4 linked regions of the Homo sapiens genome follow. The protein of the gene in region 4 purifies or fractionates together with the protein of the main gene of each other region. This does not show direct contact. Each region holds a gene or a part of one and is shown on either strand. Other genes may lie near its edges.

What was found. The genes of interacting proteins can lie anywhere in the genome.
Region 1: the proteins of EIF4ENIF1 (region 4) and POM121C purify together in Homo sapiens (affinity purification with mass spectrometry, with the first as the bait; one large-scale study listed by BioGRID). This does not show direct contact.
Region 2: the proteins of EIF4ENIF1 (region 4) and NISCH purify together in Homo sapiens (affinity purification with mass spectrometry, with the first as the bait; one large-scale study listed by BioGRID). This does not show direct contact.
Region 3: the proteins of EIF4ENIF1 (region 4) and KIAA1671 purify together in Homo sapiens (affinity purification with mass spectrometry, with the first as the bait; one large-scale study listed by BioGRID). This does not show direct contact.

The regions. Positions count from the first base shown.
Region 1 is NC_000007.14:75,483,462-75,487,813, reverse strand, and holds the start of POM121C (nuclear envelope pore membrane protein POM 121C), read left to right. Parts: upstream 1-1,514; 5' UTR 1,515-1,950; intron 1,951-3,494; exon of another isoform or gene 3,495-3,616; intron 3,617-4,352. UniProt on the Homo sapiens protein: Essential component of the nuclear pore complex (NPC). The repeat-containing domain may be involved in anchoring components of the pore complex to the pore membrane. When overexpressed in cells induces the formation of cytoplasmic annulate lamellae (AL).
Region 2 is NC_000003.12:52,483,038-52,486,641, reverse strand, and holds part of NISCH (nischarin), read right to left. Parts: intron 2,130-3,604; coding exon 2,005-2,129; intron 865-2,004; coding exon 815-864; intron 1-814. UniProt on the Homo sapiens protein: Acts either as the functional imidazoline-1 receptor (I1R) candidate or as a membrane-associated mediator of the I1R signaling.
Region 3 is NC_000022.11:24,959,150-24,962,753, reverse strand, and holds part of KIAA1671 (uncharacterized protein KIAA1671), read right to left. Parts: intron 1-3,604.
Region 4 is NC_000022.11:31,438,844-31,441,935, reverse strand, and holds the end of EIF4ENIF1 (eukaryotic translation initiation factor 4E transporter), read left to right. Parts: coding exon 1-162; intron 163-1,067; coding exon 1,068-1,232; intron 1,233-1,814; coding exon 1,815-2,056; 3' UTR 2,057-2,569; downstream 2,570-3,092. UniProt on the Homo sapiens protein: EIF4E-binding protein that regulates translation and stability of mRNAs in processing bodies (P-bodies). Plays a key role in P-bodies to coordinate the storage of translationally inactive mRNAs in the cytoplasm and prevent their degradation.

The sequences.
Region 1 (4,352 bases), on a different chromosome or scaffold from region 4:
TTTTCCTTCTTTTTTTTCCCTCCCTCTTTTTCCTTCCTTCCTCTCTCTCTTTTTCTCTCTCTCTCTTTCTTTTCTTCTCTGTTGCCCAAGCTGGAATGCAGTGGTGCCATCATGGCTCACTGTAGCCTCAACTTCCCAGGCTCAAGCGATCCTCCCATCTCAGCCTCCTGAGTAGCTGAGTCTACAGGCATGCACCACCACACCTGGATAATTATTTTTTTTTTTGTAGAAGTGGGGGTCTCGCTGTGTTGCCCAGGCTGTCCTTGAACTCCTGGCCTCAAGGGATCCTCCCAGCTCACCCTCCCAAAATGCTGGGAATACAGGCATGAGCCACCGCAATGGCCCATTTCTTTATGTAGTCTTCCAGCTGTTCAGCCAACACTTAACTCTGAACCAACTGCCAGTCTTTCAATCTACTAGTGACCTGAAAGCCTTTCCTGGCTGACCCAACATATACTTCCCATGTATTGATTTATGTCTTTGCCTGTAACTACTGTCTCCCTAAGATGCATAAAACCAAGCTGTAACCCAACTACTTTGGGCTCACGTTCTCAGGACCCCCTGAGGCTGTGTCACCAGCCATGGTCACTCAAATAGGAGGCCCAGAATAAAACTCTTTATAGACTTTGACTCTTTTTGGTCAACATAACCTAACCCTAAACATAATCCTCCTGGGGAAGGTAGGATCACAGGTATCTCTTCCTCGTTCAGTTTGTGTGTGTATGTCCTTATTTCTCTACGGTTTTTAGGCATTCGCTGTGTGATCTAGAAAAGCTATGGAGTCTCGCTTTGTCGCCAGGATGGAGTGCAGTGGCGTGATCTCGGCTCACTGCAACCTCCACCTCCCAGGTTCAAGTGATTCTCCTGCCTTAGCCTCCCGAGTAGCTGGGATTACAGGCACGCGCCACCACGCCCAGCTAATTTTTGTATTTTTAGTAGAGACAGGGTTTCATCATGTTGGCCAGGATGATCTCTATCTCTTGACCTCGCGATCTGCCCGCCTCGGCCTCCCAAAGTGCTGGGATTACAGGCTTGAGCCACTGCGCCCAGCTACAAATTCTATTTTCTTTTTGTTCCTTGGAAAGCATCGCTGGGCATTTATCCTGTCCCAGTATTTGAGTGAAACTTCTCAGCATTTCAGAGCAGTGACCATGATACACCCTTTCCTTTCCTTCTCCTTATGGGAAACTCCGTTCTAACCCAGAGGACTTGGGCTCCAGGACCCAGTAACGGAGCCCTGGATTTGACCCTAAAAGGGAGTAAAGACAAAGGTGAAGTTCAGTCCGGGGTTCAGGGCTGCCAAAGCTCATAGCCTGGAGCTTCTTAACCTTTAGGCAGGGTAGAGACATTTAAGACGGCCCCAAAACTGGGGGAGCGCGTAGGCTCCTGGGAAATAGAGTCCGTTACTTGTCCTGGGACCCGCGGTGGGTGTCCCGGGAGGCGGACTTCCGGTGCACTCCTGCGCTTGTGCACCTCTCCCTGCGTGCGTGTTCGCACATGCGCGCCACCTCCGCACTGCCCTCGCTTCCTGTGCCTCTTCAGGTCATCGCTTGCTCTCGTTCCCAGGCTTTGGCTTCTAGTGGACGAGAATCACCGAGTCTGCGGGGCTGGATGCTGACCGCCCGGACCAGCACCTAGGCGGGCGGGAGCTGTGCGGCCCAGGGTTCGCGCGGGCCGGGTAGAGGCTCGAGCTGGGACCCCCGAGCGTGAACCCCGGAGCCGGCGGCGCTGGGGCCAGAGGGGCCGGGAGCCCCAGGGAGGCGGATCTGGGCCCCGAGAAGGACACCCGCCTGGATTTGCCCCGTAGGCCCGGCCCGGGCCCCTCGGGAGCAGAACAGCCTTGGTGAGGTGGACAGGAGGGGACCTCGCGAGCAGACGCGCGCGCCAGCGACAGCAGCCCGCCCCGGCCTCTCGGGAGCCGTGGGGCAGAGGCTGCGGAGCCCCAGGAGGGTAAGTCTTGGGTTTTTGGGCCCGGAGCGAGAAGGGCCTGGGTGAAGTCACCTTGTGTTGGGGACCTTTGAGTGTGGGGCAGAGGGAGGGTCCCGATTGCTTGCCGGAGAGACATGTGTTGGGTTTGAGGGCAGGGTCCGGCTGCACCGAACAGGTGCTGCATGGGAAGATCTGGGAGGACGAGGCTTACGGAGGCGTGGAGGGTGTCACCACCCTCAGCTGCGGACGTCGTCTCCACTCCCCGCTAACCCCTAACAGTCCTTCCTCCTCCTCTCCGTGCTCCAGATTTCGACCGCCTCTAAACGTCCGTCAGCACTTCTATTCTCTCACTTAAGTGTCTGCTGATCCCCCCCCTTAGACCTGCCCTGGGAGAATCGTAGTAATGCAGGAACAGTCTGCAGGGATTCTCTGCTGCTGCCTCAGTTGCTAGGGGAAGAGACTGGGCCTTAGGTGGGTGACTTGACCAGGTCACCGGCTTTGTGGGTAGAGCTGCTCATAGTAGAACCCAGGAGACTTATCTCCCAGGCCAGTGTTCTTTCTCCCGTATCCTAGTTTTCTTAATAGAAGATTATTAGGTGCAGCAATAACCAAGTTCAGTTAGATAATTTAGAAACAAAACCATATTTTATACACATTCATTTCATTTCTGAGAGCTCACATACTCAATTCCTATGGCTTATTTTATTTTAAGCAGTTTAAAGAGACAATAAGAAAATGCGGGCGGGATGCAGTGGCTCACACCTGTAATCCGAGCATTTTGCGGGGCTAGGGCAAGAGTATCCCTTGAGACCAGGAGTTAGAGACCAGCCTAGACAACATGGGGACACCCTGACTACAAAAAATACAAAAGTCGCCAGGCATGCTGGGATGCATCTGTGGTCCCAGCTACTCAGGAGGCTGAAGTGGGAGGATGGATGGAGCCCAGGAGGTCGAGGCTGCAGAGAGCCGTGAATGCACCACTGCACTCCAGCCTGGGTGGCAGATTGAGACCCTGTCTCAACCAACAAACCACAAAAAACATGAGCCGTATAATGGGAATTTTTTTTCTTTTTGCGCCTTGTATTTGATGATGATGGCAGACTATTTGTAAAAGGAGTCATGTTACCCATGAGAGTCTAACTCATCTAATTACTACCTGATTATCTTAGAGTTACAGGCGCATGCTTCCCCTATCACTCTTTTTTTTTTTTTTTTTTTTTTTGAGACAGTGTCTCTCACCCAGTCTGGAATGCAACAGCGTGGTCTCGGCTCACTGCAACTTCCACCTCCCAGGTTCAAAGGATTCTCGTGCCTCAGCCTCCTGAGTAGCTGGGACTACAGGCATGTGACTCTATGCCTGGCTAATTTTTTTTGTTATTTTTAAGTAGAGACGGGGTTTTGCCATGTTGGCCCAGGCAGGCGGATCACTTGAGGCCAGAATTTGAGACCAGCCTGGCCAACATGGTGAAACCCTGTATCACTCTTTTAGACCCTTCTGAGTGTTTGCAGGTTGAGTGTTCACAGGGTGTTAGCCTATTGAGCTTTCTTTTGCGGTTCTTATGCAGGTGATTTCTGCCTTTGCAGGCCGGAGCCCTCATGACTTCAGTGACCTGCTTCTGCCCCTCTAGGTCTATCAGCCACAGTCTCTGCATGTTTCCAAGAGCAGCAGAAAATGAACACATTGCAGGTGAGTTTTCCTGCTTGTGTATATGTTCCTCAACTTTATTTTATGATGCATTTTAAGAGGTTTGTAAGGATTCATACTTTTTTTTTTCTTTTTTTTGAGATGGAGTCTTGCTCTGTTGCCCAGGCTGCAGTGCAGTGGCATGATCTCGCTTCACTGCAACCTCCACCTCCTGGGTTCAAGTGATTCTCCTGCCTCAGCCTCCTGAGTAGCAGGGATTACAGGCGTGGGCCACCATGCCCAGCTAATTTTTTGTATTTTTAGAAGAGATGGGGTTTCACTATGTTGGCCAGGTTGGTCTCAAACTCCTGACCTCAGGTGATCCTCCCGCCTCAGCCTCCCAAAGTGCTGGGATTACAGGCATGAGCCACCGAGCCCAGCCAGGATTCATACTTTAAAATGGGAATGTGGAAATAGACATTATCCTGTAAAATATAGTTAGTGTGGCAGATCAGCACCAAAAATGATTTGTGAAGCTTGTATGTATGGGTAGTATATTTTAAGGCTGTTGAAATTGAGCCGCACCTAGGACTGATACTCTTGGCAGTCATCACAAAAGGAAAATGCCATCTGTATTAGTCCATTCTCACACTGCTATAGAGAAATAACCAAGACTGGGTAATTTATAAAGAAAAGAGGTTTAATTGGCTCACGTCTGCAGGCTCTATCATAGGAAGCGTGGCTGAGGAGTCCTCAGGAAACTTACAGTCAAGTGAAAGGTGAAGGGAAAGTGGGTGCA
Region 2 (3,604 bases), on a different chromosome or scaffold from region 4:
AGCAGCCCTTTAAGAATGTAACTGTCCAACATGGCGAAATCCTGTCCCTACTAAAAACAGAAAAATTAGCCAGGTGTGGTGGCGGGCACCTTGGGTGGCTGAGGCAGAAGAATCGCTTGAACCCGGGAGGCGGAGGTTGCAGCGAGCTGAGATCGGGCCACTGCACTCCAGCCTGGGTGACAAAGCAAGACTCAGTCTCAAAGAAAAAAAAAGTAACTGTTATTCTAGCCAGGCGCGGTGGCTCATGCCTGTAATTCCAGTACTTTAGGAGGCCGAGGTTGGTGGATCACTGGAGTTCAGGAGTTCGAGACCAGCTAGGCAACATGGTGAATCTCTGTCTCTACTAAAAATATAAAAAATTAGTTGGGCGTGGTGGCGTGCGCCTGTGGTCCGGGCTACTCAGAAGGCTGAGGCTGAGACAGGAAAATTGCATTAATCTGGGAGGCGGGGGTTGCAGTGAGCCAAGAACACGCCACTGCACTCCAGCCTGGGCGACAGAGCGAGACTCAGTCTCAAAAAAAGAAAAAAGAATGTAACTGTCATTCTTAGCTCCCAGGCTGTGGGCCACACACAGGCCTTGATTTGCCAACCCCTGGTGTAGGGCAACATGTGCTGAGCAGAGTTTAGGTATTAGAATTTGGAAACAGATTGAAAAGTCCATCTCATCTGTGTCTCTTTAGAGGAAGAAATAGTTCTATAGGCCTTCTGTGAACGGATTTTTAAAAAAACCTGACTGGCCACCCCTGGCCCACAGCAGTGTGTGTGCATAAGGCTGTGTGGCCAGGCCCAGGTCCCTTTCCAACCTCTTCCTTACCTTGCACCACCAACAGCTCCTGGCACGTCCCTTAAATCATCGGAAGCTGCCTGATGGAGAAAGAAACACAGTCAGTCCCCACCTACTGCAGCCAGCCCCAGCCATTTACTGGTTGCCAGACCCTGAGCTGGGCATTCTGCCCTCCATCACCGCCCTGAGGAGGCTCCCCATCCCCACGCTGTACCCTGGAGCCCACTCTGGGACCCTGGGGCCCACTCTGGGACCCAAGGGCAGAGACCCACTTGGTTATCCCACCAGCACACAGCAGGGCTGGGATTCCCACTCGCAACCTAGGGCCAGAGCCTCTCGCCACTCTCCAGGGATCCAGCATCTGACTGCTCCTTGTGCCACGCAAGGGTCCAGGTAGACAGTCTACAAATTTGGTCCGACCCTAACTGGCCAGCAGTGGACACAGCCCTGGCAAGTCCCTCCCAATGGTCTCTGTGCACTGGGGAATACCTAGGGCTTGGGAATCTCTTGCTGTGTGACCCTGGAAAGGGTGATGGCAGAATACTGTGGAGTACTGAGGACAGACAAGGACTCTGCAAACTGTCCCAGTGTCACAAGGCCATAACCTTGTGCTGCTGCAGAGATGGGGCTGGAGGGAGGCCCAGGCACCAAGCACATTTGCGAAGCACACAGCAAGCACCCTTGCTTTCCTCCTGTCTTTCCTCAGGACAAAGGAAGGGGCCCCAGAACTCTCAGTAACAACCACAGAGGAGGCGCCAGAGTGAGACTGTTTCCCAGACCACCAGGGTGACATGCGGAAAGGCGCCGAGTGGCTCCAGGGGTGCCAGGAAACAGAGAAGAAACCCAAACAAGCCCCTGCACGAGGGTCTTTTGAAATGCCTTCCCCAGGGAAGCCTGCTCACAGGGTCAAGGGCCACCCTCTCCACCTGCCCCCCTCGTGCCCTGGGCCCAGTGACAGAGAACTGCCTGTTCCCATCAACCAAGGTGGGTGGGGAAGGGAAGGAGGGAGGCTGAAAATAAACCCTTAACCACTGTGTTTGTCAGGAAGACACTCAACCAGAGACAGGTCCAAGAGAAAGACCGTGGCACAAAGCAGAGGACGCCAAACCCTGGAAGCATCTGCCTCAGCTCCAGCTAGGCCACTTCCTACTGCACACAACCCCAAGCAGAAGAGTCCACCCACAGATGTATGGTCCCCAGAAGCGGGAAGAGGGCATTACCTGTCCCGCAGGGATGGACTCCAAGGAATCAGAACATCCCTGGGCAATGGGCTGGTGCTCGGGAGTCAGACTGTCAGTGGACGAGAGGCTGCTGGCCAGGGCCTCCTCCTGAACGAACATGATTCCTGGAGAGACCAGGGCGGGTGGGCAGGCAGGCAGGGTGGGTGGGGCGGGGAGAGCGGCTGTTCAACAAGTGGGGCTGGGCCCCTCAGGCTACTGGCATGGCGGGGGTTAGCCAGATCCCAAAACCCAGCCACATGGATTATAGAAGAAAATGTTAAAACTGAAATCTCAAAATAACTCAAGAAAGAACAAATGACTGCTTATCTAATCTCAGGGCAGGGAGAAGCATTCTGAGAATAAATGCAATGGAAAAAAACTGAGATGTGACTACATAAAAATTAAACTTCCACAGACACATTTTTTAAAAACCAGGATAGATTAAAACCAGATGAAATGAGAAAAGTGTTTGCAATATTTGACAAGGATTTATATCGCTAGTCTGTAAAAAGTTCTTACAGATTACAAAAATGAGGGAAGGTTGGAAACCTCATTAACAGACTGCAAAGGACGTGAACAGACATTCCGCAGAAGAACGGCCAGCGGATAGAACATGAAAAGAATGCTCGCTCTCAGAAGTACACAAAGAAAGGCAAGCTGAAACAAGAGACAAGTGTTGCCTCTCAACTTCTGCCAAAGTCAGACTGACTGTGTGGCCTGGCCCTGACCTCGCTGGGCAGAGGCCGGCACAGGCATGCAAGCTGGCCCACCCATCCAGAGAAGAGTTTGGAGGTACATCCATCAAGAGCCTGAAATGTGTTCACTCCTGGAGCATTTTCCCAGACGGTGACTAGACATGACCCCGTCCCCTGATTTGTCATCTCTGCAGGACTCATAGATACACAGGGCACGGGACAATTCACCAGGGGGCCAGCCCTTGCAGGCCTTGGTATCCAGCAGGGCTGCTGAGTCCAGCCTGAGCCCACATCCACAGTCCCACTTACCACAGGACGTGCCCACTGACCTGCCCTGGGGCCACCTCCCACGGACAGCAGCACTCTGACCCACTGCGTCCCGTAAATGCACAGTGTTCCTAAACCCCGCTGAAGCTGTTTTATGAACGTAGCCTATCTGGACCTGTTACTCCACCTCAGATCACCTCTAGACCACTTGAAGGTAAAGCCTTTGTGAACATGTTCCTGACTGCCGCCAGCAGGGTGAACACTGGGCATCGGCCGCCAGTCTCACTGAGGCCTACAGGAGCCCTAGGCCTACCTCCACAGCCCAGCATCGCCACAGCCCAGTGAAATGACCCCGAGTCCTCTGAGCCCCACAGGTCGAGACCCCCGACCAGCTCAGCTGCTCCCCGGGACAGGACAACTCACACAGCCTGGGTCCTCTGCCCACAAGCGAGGCAGGCAGGTGGGCCCAAGCTCAAACGCCCCCACGAAGCGAAGCAGCAGGGGGTAGGCAGGCAGGAAGGATGGCAAGCACACAGCCATGCATGAAGCACCCTGATGGGCCACGCTGGGCACCTGCCCAGGCCGCTGCTCTCCTGCAATCCACCCTCTGCCTGCTAACGTTCAACTCCTATTCACCT
Region 3 (3,604 bases), 6.5 Mb from region 4:
CCTGGTGGCTCCCAGGAAGGGAAGCAACCTCTCTGGGCCTCCGTAGACTAATAATAATACTAGTAATCCTAACGATACTAGCTAAGGCTCATGTAAATTCATTAGCAAGTGCCATATGTGTTAACACATTTAATGCTTGTCAACCTCATGAGGCCAGCTCTCTTATTACTCCCAGCTTACAGATGAGAAAACTGAGGCCCAGAGTGGTTAACTGCCTTGCATAAGGCCACACAGCTGGTAAGCGGTGGAGCTGGGATTTGAATCCAAGCAGTCCGGCTCCAGGTTCCCTGCAATATTCCCAAGGGAATGGGTGGCGGAATTCCTCATTCTGCCCCTATCAGGACCCCCTCAGCTCCATGCCAATCCTCACAGCCACCATCTGGTTATCATCTACCTCATGCCAAGCATTTCACAGTCCTCGTTAATGGGCACAAGCACACTGTGACCCTTTTACAGACAGGCAAACTGAGGCTGAGGGATGTGATGAGGCTGATCAAAAGTCACGTGGCCCACAACGAGCACAGCTGGGATTCAAACCCAGGCCTATCCCTCCCAGTCTCACCTTGGCGTCGCTGCGTTCTCTCACTCTACTGGCTACAGGTGTCACTGCTCAGGGGATTGTAAGCCAGCTCCAGCACAAAAATCATCATCAAGACAATCATCCCTCATTTCCCATCTCGCCTCACAGGTATAAAGCACCTTCTTATGCAGTAATATCTCTGAGCTTCCCAGCAGCTCGCCAGAGAAGACAAATTATTCCCATTTTCCAGATAAGGAAACTGAGACTCAGTTGGTGAACTGCCTGTCTCTGGTTATAAACTCAAACCAGGTCTCCTTACCCAGAGCCTCTGCTCTGCGACCACTTGTCCCACACAAATCATGAGCCATGATTCTTACCCATGCCCTCCAGGCAGACCCTCTACTCCTGCAAGGACCCGTCCTACCCCATCAGAAACATAATTGTGGCAGGTTCTATTATTGCTCAGCAAATGTTTCTTCAGCCTCCATGAGAGGAGTAGACTTCAACTCATTGATGTCAGGCTTGCCACGTGACTTGCTTCAGCCTATAGCATGAGAGCAGAAGTGACAGCTTCTCAGTTCAGAACGGAGGCTTCTGTTGTCCACCACAGAAGAACACGCCCTGGCTGGCTGCCACCCTTCAGCCTGTGAATCTGGATGAAGATTCACGAGCCAGACCTGAACCCAATCCAAAGCCTAGGGCCAGCCTTGCTGGTGAAGCCTAGCTAAGGTCAGCCAAGCTACCTGCTGACTCGTGAGCATGAAACAAATGTTTGCTGTTAAAGGCCACTGCGATGTAGGAGATGTTTGTTACACAGTATGATCACAGAAAAGCTTGACTAATACAGGGACCACGTATGTCCAGAAAGACTCGTGTGTACATGGGCAAATATCTTCCGAGACAGAGTCTCCAGCAGTTTGTATTAAAACCCAAGGGCCAGGCTGGGTGTGGTGGCTCACATCTGCAATCCTACCACTTTGGGAGGCTGAGGCAGCAGGATCGCTTGAGGAGTTTGAAACTAGCCTGGGTAATGTGGCAAAATCTCGTCTCTACAAAAATTAGCCAGGCGTGGTGGTGCATGCCTGTAATCCCAGCTACTTGGGAGGCTGAGGTGGGAGGACCACCTGAGCCCAGGAGGTTGAGACTGCAGTGAACTGAGATCGCACCACTGCATTCCAGCCTGGATGAAAGAGCAAGACCCTGTCTCAAAACAAAAACAACAACAACAAAAAGAACCCCAAGGGCAACAAAATGTTGTCACTTATAAGAACTCTCACCTTCCCTCAGGCCAGAGGCCATGTCCTATGGCCAAAGACAAGAGACAGCCAAACACTGTTCCTTCTCTCTGAAATATACAAAGAGGCTGTCTCTCGCACAGCTGTGGTAAGAGTGTGAAAGGTATAGCCACTCTGCTGGGAAATTGGGCAGGTCATTTCAACGTTCTAAACACCCTTCCTCCCTAAAGTTCCACATCCTGGAAATCTGTCCTCCAGCCTACTACAACAAATGTGCAAAGACATGTCAACAGGGATGTTAACTGCGGCACTCGGTCATAGCAAAAAAAAAAAAAAAAAAAAAAGAACCTGAAAAACAACTCAATGTCCATCAACAGGGGATCGGTTAAATAAGCTCATAGCACCTCATGCACTGGAAATTATTCAGTTTTTTCTTTTTTTTTTTTTTTTTTGAGACGGAGTCTTGCCCTGTCACCCAGGCTAAAGTGCAGTGGCGCGATCTCAGCTCACTGCAACACTCGCCTCCCTGGGTTCAAGCAATTCTCCTGCCTCAGCCTCCCGAGTAGCTGGGATTACAGGCGCGTGCCACCATGCCTGGCTAATTTTTGTATTTTTAGTAGAGATGGGGTTTCACCATGTTGACCAGGCTGGTCTTGAACCCCTGACCTCAAGTGATCCGCCCGGCCGCCTAAAGTGCTGGGATTACAGGCCCGAGCCACCACAGCTGGCCTTATTCAGCTTTTAAAAATAATGAGGTAAATCAACACATTCTGAAATGGGAAAGTACCTAAATCTATTTTTAATTCACGTGTGAAATTATTTGTTTTATTTTATTTATTTATTTATTTATTTATTTATTTATTTATTTGAGACGGAGTCTCACTCTGTCGCCAGGCTGCAGTGCAGTGGTATGATCTCGATTCACTGCAATCTCCCTCCCAGGTACAAGTGATCCTCCCGCCTCAGCCCCACGAGTAGCTGGGACCACAGGCGCCACCACACCTGGCTAATTTTTGTATTTTTAGTAGAGACGGGGTTTCACCATGTTGGCCAGGCTGGTTTCGAACTCCTGACCTCAAATGATCCACCTCCCTCGGGGTCCCAAAGTGCTGGGATTACAGGCGTGAGCCACCGCGCCCGGCCGTATTTCATATTCTTAATGGAGACATGGCTATAGAACATTTCAAAGGTCACTTAACTGAGCAATTAACAAATGTAGCTGTGATAGCTTCTGCCCAGAAGTCAAGTCCATAATTATTTGCTTACTTGTCTCACCTTGCCCCCTTCCTTCTTCTCGTACAGTTGACCAGAGGATTCCTAAGGGCAGGTGATCTTTTGAATTTTTCACAAATAGAGTGCCTTGCCCACATAAGATGCTCAATAAAATATTCATTGCATTGAAGGAAAAAATATATATATGTGTGTGTGTGTGTATGTGCCTCGATTGTTTGTTAGCTTCCTTTTATTTTTACTTTTTGAGACAGAGTCTCACTCTGTTGCCCAGGCTGGAGTGCAGTGGCACCATCTAGCTCACTGCAAACTCCACCTCCCAGGTTCAAGTGATTCTCATGCCTCAGCCTCCTGAATAGCTGGGATTACAGGCAACTGCCATCACGCCTAGCTAATTTTTTTTAATTTTATTTTTATTTTTTTTTAGTAGAGATGGGGTTTCACCATGTTGGCCATGCTGGTCTCAAACTCCTGCCCTCAAGTGATCCGCCCACCTCTGACTCCCAAAGTGCTGAGATTACAGGTTTGAGTCACTGTGCTTGACCAGCTTCCTTTTATTTTTAATTTTAATTTTTTAAATTTTTATGTATTTATGTATTTATTTATTTGAGACAAGGAC
Region 4 (3,092 bases):
CCCCAGTTCCTACAACACCTTTTCTCCGCCCTGTCCACCAAGTTCCCCTTGTCCCCCATGTCCCTATGGTTAGGCCTGCTCACCAGCTTCACCCAGGGTTGGTACAGAGGATGCTGGCCCAGGGAGTACATCCACAGCATCTTCCAAGTTTGCTCCAAACTGGTGAGTTTCCAGCCTGACTTGGGTGTCGTCAGTTTGTGGGCCTAGGGGACAATTGTTGGCACTGATGAAGTGCTATAATGTGGGAGATTTCCATCCCTAGAAAGATGTTACTAGATTCTCCCATCTAACTGGCAGGCAGTGGGCCCAATCCAGTCAATCCCCTAGTCCTTTAAAAGATTAGGAACCTAGCTTGAAGATTCTTTTTTTTTTTTTTTTTTTTTTTCCTTTTTGTAGAGACAGAAGTCTCACTCTGTCTGCCTGGCTGGAGTGCAGTGGCGCAATCTCAGCTCACTGCAACCTCTGCCTCCTGAGTTCAAGCAATTCTCCTGCCTCAGCCTCCCGAGTAGCTGGGACTACAGGTGCACGCCGCCACACCCGGATAATTTATTTTGTATTTTAGTAGAGACAGGATTTCACCGTGTTGCCCAGGCTGGTCTCAAACTCCTAAGTTTAGGCAGTCCACCCACATCGGCCTCCCAAAGTGTCAGGATTACAGGCGTGAGCCAGAGAATTCTTCATTCTTTTTTGAGTCTCGCTCTGTCGCCCAGGCTAGAGTGCAGTGGCGCGATCTCTGCTCACTGCAACCTCTGCCTCTCCCGAGTTCTAGGTCCCTGCCTCAGCCTTCCGAGTAGCTGGGATTACAGGCGCCTGCCACTACACCTGGCTAATTTTTGTATTTTTAGTAGAGACAGGGTTTCACCATGTTGGCCATACTGGTCTCGAACTCCTGACCTCGTGGTCCGCCTGCTTTGGCCTCCCAAAGTGCTGGGGATTACAGGCGTGAGCCACTGCGCAGAGCCCTTCATTCTTAACAAACTTCCAGATCAGCAAAACTGTACAGTGAAGCTGGAAAACTTCCAGGTAACATTAAGACTACTCAGCTGCTTGCTTTTTCTGCTCAACAGGTGTGCTTCCTCCTGGGATGGACTTGAGTCATTTACAGGGAATATCTGGCCCCATCCTGGGTCAGCCCTTTTACCCTTTACCTGCTGCTAGTCACCCTCTCTTAAACCCTCGTCCTGGAACACCTCTGCATCTGGCAATGGTGCAACAGCAGCTACAGCGCTCAGGTAGGTTCAGGAATGTGACAGGTGAGTTTGGGACGGACTTAGGGAGTCTTGAAGCTTTGAGGACTAGTTTCCAGTGGAGATGAATTAACACTTTCATTCTTTAACTTGTTCTAAGTTTGGGACAAAGTGTAACCAGATAATAAGATGAAGTAAATTGACCTCTATGCAATTTGGGATTACTGTTCCTGCAAAGTCAGTGGGAAAAGCCAAGTGTTTTCTGGCTTTTTCCTTTGCCTGTTAGGAGAGAGGGCTGAGAATCCAACAGAGGTTCAGCATCCGGCCTGCCCAGGGTATATACCCCCTCACCAGTTCATGTTGCTGCTTCTGTGATGTGGTTACTTAGCCATGAGAAGTAGCGGTCATGTCATCCAGGGTGGGTTTTCAATACTGGTAGCTTCTGAATAGCTCAGCTTTCCATGGTACTGTTTTCTGGCATTGTTGGTATTTTGCAAAGGAGTTTCTAAAGAAGCCCTAGAAAAAATCCTCTAGTAAAGACTTTTCTTTGGATAGGGTTTGAATGAAGCAGGGTCTAATAAACTTTCCTTCTCATGCTGTGAATGATAACCCTTCTTATCTCCACAGTTCTGCATCCTCCAGGCTCTGGTTCCCATGCAGCAGCTGTCAGCGTTCAGACAACCCCTCAGAACGTGCCCAGCCGGTCAGGCCTGCCCCACATGCACTCCCAGCTGGAGCATCGCCCCAGCCAGAGGAGCAGCTCCCCTGTGGGCCTTGCCAAATGGTTTGGCTCAGATGTGCTACAGCAACCCCTGCCCTCCATGCCCGCCAAAGTTATCAGTGTAGATGAATTGGAATACCGACAGTGAGCAGGGCAGGCAGACTCAACTAAGCCCGGACCTGTGGTGGCACACTGGGCAGGACCCTGCTTCATCTCGGGTTGGTTTATGGGCTTTTACTTTGGAGCACTCTGTGTGAAGCTGTTTGGTGGAACCCATGCATCTGGTGTGGTCCGCATTATGATGGAAGGATCTTAACCAGTCGAGTGGAGTGTACATTGTCTGAATACAGGATGCACAATGTTGTCAATCCTGGAAATGGTCTTTCTTTTTTGTAAGATATGTGAATGAAGTGTTGGTGTCCTCACCAAGAGGTGGCACCTAAGGGTTCTGAGGAAATAAATGTATAGACCCTTATGTACAGACCTGTGTATAAACAACTTTTGTATATACATATAGGATAGCTTTTTTGAACTATACAGCTGTACATAAAAGTAGCTGATATTAGTTAGGCCTGTGTCAACAGTTTGGATTTTTTTCACTTGTACATTTGGGATTTTCTTTTGGTTGATTAAAATTGCATATGCTAAGTGTGTGAATGAAGTAACTGACATTGTTGTGTTTATTTCCTCTCTGAAACCCTTCCTAATTTTGTTTGGAGACAGGGTCTCACTCTGTGTCACCCAGGCTGGAGTACAGTGGTGCAATCGTGGCTCACTGCAGCTTCAACCTCCTGGGCTCAAGCGATCCTCTCACCTCAGCCTCCCAAGTAGATGGAACTACAGGCACATGCCACTAACTTTTTTCTTATTTTTTGTAGAGGCAGGGTCTTACCATGTAGCCCAAGCTAGTCTTCCTAATTTCTAACCAGCCAAGCTATGCTCAGTATGTTCCTTTAAGGAAGTGATCTGAAGTTTAAGTAAGTTAAGTTTTTCTTGAAAACCCATGGAAATTGGGCACTGTGGCTCACGCCTGTAATCTCAGCACTCTGGGAGGCAGAGGCAGGCGAATCACAAGGTCAAGAGATCAAGACCATCCTAGCCAAGATGGTGAAATCCCATCTCTACTAAAAATACAAAACTAGCTGGGCATGGTGGCCCACACTTGTAGTCCCAGCTACTCGGGA